Regions from separate parts of the Homo sapiens genome. Here region 2 is linked to region 1. Evidence: fine-mapped expression QTL. A gene starts in region 1. The other region holds a variant in brackets. All regions are shown on one strand. Distances are from middle to middle.

Region 1 (2,784 bases):
AGGTTTTTTTTTTTTTTTTTAGACGGAGTCTAGCTCTGTCTCCATGCTGCAGGGCAGTGGCGCGGTCTCGGCTCACTGCAACCTCCGCCTCCCGGGTTCCCGCGATTCTCCTGCCTCAGTCTCCCGAGTAGCTGGGACTACAGGCACACGCCACCACGCCCAGCTAATTTTTGTTTGTTTGTTTATTTATTTATTATTATTTTTGAGACGGAGTCTCGCTCTGTCATCAGGCTGGAGTGCCATTGGAGTGCAATGGCACGATCTCGGCTCACTGCAATCTCCGCCTCCCGGGTTCAAGCAATTCCCCTGCTTCAGCCTCCCGTGTAACTGGGACTACAGGCACGTGCCACCACCCCCAGCCAATTTTTTGTATTTTAGTAGAGACGGGGTTTCACCATGTTGGCCAGGATGGTCTCCATCTCCTGACCTCGTGATCTGCCCGCCTCGGCCTCCCAAAGTGCTTACAGGAGGACTACAGGCGCGAGCCACCGCGCCCGGCCAATTTTTGTATTTTTAGTAGAGACGGAGTTTCACCATGTTGGCCAGGATGGTCTCCATCTCCTGACCTCGTGATCCGCCAGTCTCGGCTTCCCAAAGTGTTGGGATTACAGGTGTGAGCCACCGCACCCGGCATATTTTGAGTTTTGAGTGGAGGATTAGACAGTCTTCTTCCTTCCCAAATTTGATTATGGGCTCCCTTTAGCCTTTTTCTTTGTTTTCTGTCTTTTTTCCACCACCACCCCGCCCCCGAGGCGCAGTCTCAAGAGGTCCTGAGAACATGTGCCCTGCTCTCTGTTTTAAGGATTAAAATAACTGTCGAGTTACATTGAATCTTTTTTGCCTATTCCATTTGGCTAGGTTAATTCCAGACCTTACACAAACATGTGCAGCTCTTACAAAATGTAGGTGAAGACAACATTTTTCTAACCATTCGGCTTCATGGGCTGTCACAGGAGAACTAAGTGCATGAAAAACCTTTCACAACATTGAAAGAAATTTTAAAAATCTGGTTGAAACACAATTAAAAATCCACAAGAGGGAGATGCTTGCTAAACCGTCAGAAAATAATTCCCTCGAGGGACCTGAGAGAGGAGCCTGGAGCCTTAGGAACAGCCACTGGGTCAGCCACGGGATTAAGGGTGGGAGGGAGCAGGAGTATATAGAGACGGGGGCTTGGTGGAGGAGTACAGTTGAAGGGAAAAGCGGGATGGGTTTCGTGCCTCTGGCAGCGAAGCGTGTACTTGGTCTAAGATCTTGAGCAGAAGGTAAGAGCGTGTTGCCAAAGCAGAGCTCAGTGCTCCCGATATATCTTCTGGTAGTCCCAGAAGAAATGGGGGTGGGTTGCTTTGAAGGCACTTCCGCTTAGCAACCCCACGCGGTTGCTAAGGAGGGGGCAGCCGTGGGGATAACCCGGAAGTGATGGTGTCAGTTTAACGCTGCCTGCCCAAAGTTTGTCCTATTAGGCCCGCCAGGGTACTCTGCGACTCCGGGACGAGGGCGGGGCCGCGCTAGTGGTTCCGGTTCGGCTCCAGCCGCCCCTCGGCTCCTCGCCTTCCCCCTCCCGTCCGCCTTCTCCCCTCCCTCCCGCTCCTGGGAAAGAGAGAAACCACCGCTGCGGGTGGGTAGAGAAGCACTTGGCGCCTCGGGGAGGGGACCGCGCCCGCCTCATTTGCGCCTTGCAGCACTGCTGGACCAGGTATCTGCCCGGCTTCGTCGGGGTTCTGTAGGCTGAAGTCTGAGGGGGTGTGTGTGTGTCTGAGGGGGTTGGTGGGGGGCCCTTTCCTGGGCGTGGGTGGGGGACGCCGTGATCCCGGGTGGGGCGCAGGCTGGCGTTTGTGTCTGTGGAGGGTTGCGGGGGCGGAATGGAGGGGCTGAGGGACACAGCGGGTGGAGAGTTTCGGTTAGCGGGGTAGAGGTAGGCGGAGGAGGCGCCCCTTCCGAGAAACTGACTCTAGCCGGTGTGGACCGGGAGTTTGCCACCTGGAGGGCTTACTCTGAAAGGGGGAGCATCCCCCGGGAGCCAAAAGGAGGGCACAGATCTCGTCAGGGTGACTGGGGCTATCCCGTGCTTCCATTGCCCTCTTTCCCTACCCACCCCGCTGGGACAGAGCTGGACTTCGAAGGTTGTGGGGGTTCTGAGTCGACTGGGTACCGCGGGGAGCCGCCCTTGGCGGAGCTTAGGGCACAAGAGTGGGTAATGAGACTTTCCTCTACCCAACTTCCGTACGCTTCCCCCACTTCTTCCTTTACTGTTTCCTCGCCCCCACGTCCTACAGGAGCAATGTCCCCCAAGTGGGCAGGCATCACAATGTAAAAGAGAGTGGAACTGGGTTTGTTGCCCCTAAATGACACTTAAGATGTTTGGAAAGTGCCTGAATGACATATTCAACCAAGTCTCCCAGCTCGATATTAATTCCGGTATAAATTACCTTAGAAAAGTGGAATTCTGAAAAGCATTTAACAATAGGCTAGTCCAGGTGTAGTCTTGTGTAGTAGATGTACGTGTTTATTTAAAAAGAATGGACTGGGGAAACCATATAGATGTATCACAGGTCTAGGCAAGACATGTTGAGGCAAGGCTTTTGCAGCCTCTTTCTTACCTGCCAGTAAACCTGTCCTAATTTAAATGAAGTAGAAAGATCCTCTTCATTTTTGTTTCAATCAGTGACTGAATACTAGGTGCTGTGTAGTGATGTCTCAGAACAGATATGTGAATTTTCAGAGAGAGAATGAATGTTCTGCTGTTGAGCCTGTGTCTTAATCTTTTAAGGAGATAATTGCGGT
Region 2 (2,784 bases), 110 kb after region 1:
CTACATTTTTAAATTCATTTTGAGAATTTTTTTGGTGGCAGTTTTAGGATTTTCCACATATACAATCATGTCACTTGCATATAGGGACAATTCGACTTCCTCCTTTTCAATTTGGATGCCCTTTATGTCTTTTTCTTGCCTGTTTGCTCTGGATAGTACTTCTAGTACTATGTTGAATTAGAGTGGTGAGAGACGGCATCCTGTCTTGTTCCAATTTTTTGAGGAGAAATTCAGCTTTTCCCTGTTTAAAATGATGTTAGCTGTATTTGTCCTATATGACCTTTGTTACATTGAGGTATGTTCCTTCTGTACCTAGTTTGTTGAGGGTTTTTTTTGTTTTGTTTTGTTTTGTTTTTCTTTGAGATGGAGTCTCGCTCTGTCTCCCAAGCTAGAGTGCAGTGGCGCAATCTTGGCTCACTGCAACCTCTGCCTCCCTGGTTCAAGCGATTCTCCTGCCTCAGCCTTCCGAGTAGCTGGGATTACAGGTTCACGCCACCACACCTAGCTAATTTTTGTATTTTTAGTAGAGACAGGGTATCACCATGTTGGCCAGGATAGTCTCGATCTCTTGACCTCATGATCCGCCCTCCTCAAAGCCTCCCAAAGTGCTTGGATTACAGGCGAGAGCCACCGCGCCCAGCCGAGGATTTTTTTTTAATCATGAAGGGATGTTGAATTTTATCAAATGCCTTTTCTGTGTCTATTGAGATGATCATACGGTTTTGTCCATTCTATTCATGAGATATATCTCATATATTAATTTATGTATGTTGAATCATTCTTGCATCCCTGGAATAAATCCCACTTGATCATGGTGAATTATCTTTTTTATACATTGTTGGATTTGGTTTGCTAGTATTTTGTTAAGAATTTTTGCATCTATGTTCATGAGGAATATTGCTATGTAGTTTTCTTTTGTTGTTGTGTCCTGGTCTGGTTTTGGCATCAGGGTAATCCTGGACTCAGAATGAGTTTGGAAGAATTTTCTCCTCTTCACTTTTCTAATGTTTTAGAAGAATTTATATTAGTTATTGATATAAATCTGGTTGAATTCAGTAGTGAAGCCGTATTAGGCCATTCTTGCATTGCTATGAGGAAATACCTGAGACTGTATAAATTATAAAGAAAAGAGGTTTAATTGGCTCATGGTTCTGCAGGCTGCACAGGAAGTGTGGCACCAGGCATCTGCTTGGCTTCTGATGAGGCTTCAGAAAGCTTACAGTCATAGCAGAAGGCAAAGTGGGGACTGGTACATCACAATACAAAAGTAGGAAGAAGAGTGACTGGGAGTCGGGGGAAAGTGGGGGAAAAAATGACCAGATCTAATGAGAAGTCACTTACCATGAAGACAGCACCGCCATGATTCAAACACCTCCCACCAAGCCCCACCTCCAGCATTGGAGATTACAATTCCACATGAAATTTGAGCAGGGACAAATATTTGAACTATATCAGAAGCCATCAGGTTCTGGCCTTTCCTTTGATGGAATAAGTTACTGCTTCAGTCTTATCACTCATAATTAGTTCAGGTTGTGTTTTTCATGGTTCAGTTTTGGTTGGTGGTATATGTCCAGGAATTTATCCATTTCCATTAGGTTTTTCAGTTTGTTAGCATATAGTTGTTCATAGTAGTCTCTAATGATTCTTTGTATTTCTGTGGTATCAGTTGTAATGTCTCCTTTTTCGTTTCTGATTTTATTTATTTGAGTCTTCTCATTTTTTTCTTGGTTAGTCTAGCTAATGGTTTGTTGGTTTTGTCTATCTTTTTTTT[T/A]AAAAAAACAACTTTTTGTTTCATTGATCTTTTGCAACTTTTGGTCTTAATTTTGTTGATTTCTGCTCTTTATTATTTCTCTCCTTCTACTGAATTTAGACTTGTTTTTTTTTTCTTTTCTAGTTTCTTGATATGCATCATTAGGTTGTTTATTTGAAATCTCTACTTTTTTGATGTGTTTATTGCTGTACACCATCTTGATTTCTTTATTGACACTATAGTTATTCAGGAGCATGTTGTTGAATTTCCATGTATTTATACAGTTTCTAAAGTTCCTCTTGTTATTGATCTCTGGTTTTATTTCCTTATGGTCAGAAAAGATATTTGTTATACCATTTATTTTAAATTTTTTGAAATTTGTTTTGAGGCCTAACACATGGCCTGTCCTGGATAATATTCCATATGCTGATGAAAAGTATATACTCTGAAGCTGTTGGATGAAATGTTTTGTAAATGTCTGTTAGGTCTATTTGGTCTAAAGTGATGTTTAAATCCAATGGGATGTTGAAGCCCCCAACAATTATCGTACTGGAATCTATCTTTCCCATTAGATCCAATAATATTTTATCTTTCTGAGTGCTCTGACATTGAGCACACATATATTTACAATTGGTTATATCCTATTGCTGGATTGTTCTCTTTAACATTGTATAATTACCTTCTTTGTTGCTTTTTACAGCTTTGACTTAAGATCTTTTGATATATCTACTCCTCCTTGCTTTTGGTTTCCATTTGTGTAGAATATCTTTTTCCATCCCTTCATTTTTAGTCTGTATATATCTTTATAGGTGAAGTGAGTTTCTTGTAGGCAGTATATAGTTGGGTCATCGTTTTTTATCAGTTCATCCAGTCTGCATCTTGTAAGTGGGAGAATATAATCGGTTTATATTCAAGGCTATTTTTCACAGGTGAGGAATTACTCCTCTCATTTTGTTAATCTTTTTCTGGTTGCTTTATATATTCTTTATTCCTCTCTTACTGTTAATCATCGCAACTTGGTGGTTTTCTGTAGT

What was found.
Region 2: its variant is fine-mapped to the expression of CSNK1G1 in whole blood (INTERVAL, PIP 0.90).

Annotation. Positions count from the first base shown.
Region 1 is chr15:64,354,900-64,357,683 of GRCh38, reverse strand. CSNK1G1 (casein kinase 1 gamma 1) reads left to right here and starts at 1,511. Exons shown (of 12, transcript NM_022048.5): 1 at 1,511-1,696. RefSeq lists silencers at 1,576-1,625, 1,736-1,795, 2,186-2,245.
Region 2 is chr15:64,240,912-64,243,695 of GRCh38, reverse strand. All of the region lies in intron 4 of CSNK1G1 (casein kinase 1 gamma 1), which reads left to right. Among named protein-coding and RNA genes, the nearest start is that of PPIB, 79 kb to the right of the region's middle. The variant T/A (reference allele first, on the strand shown) is at 1,772.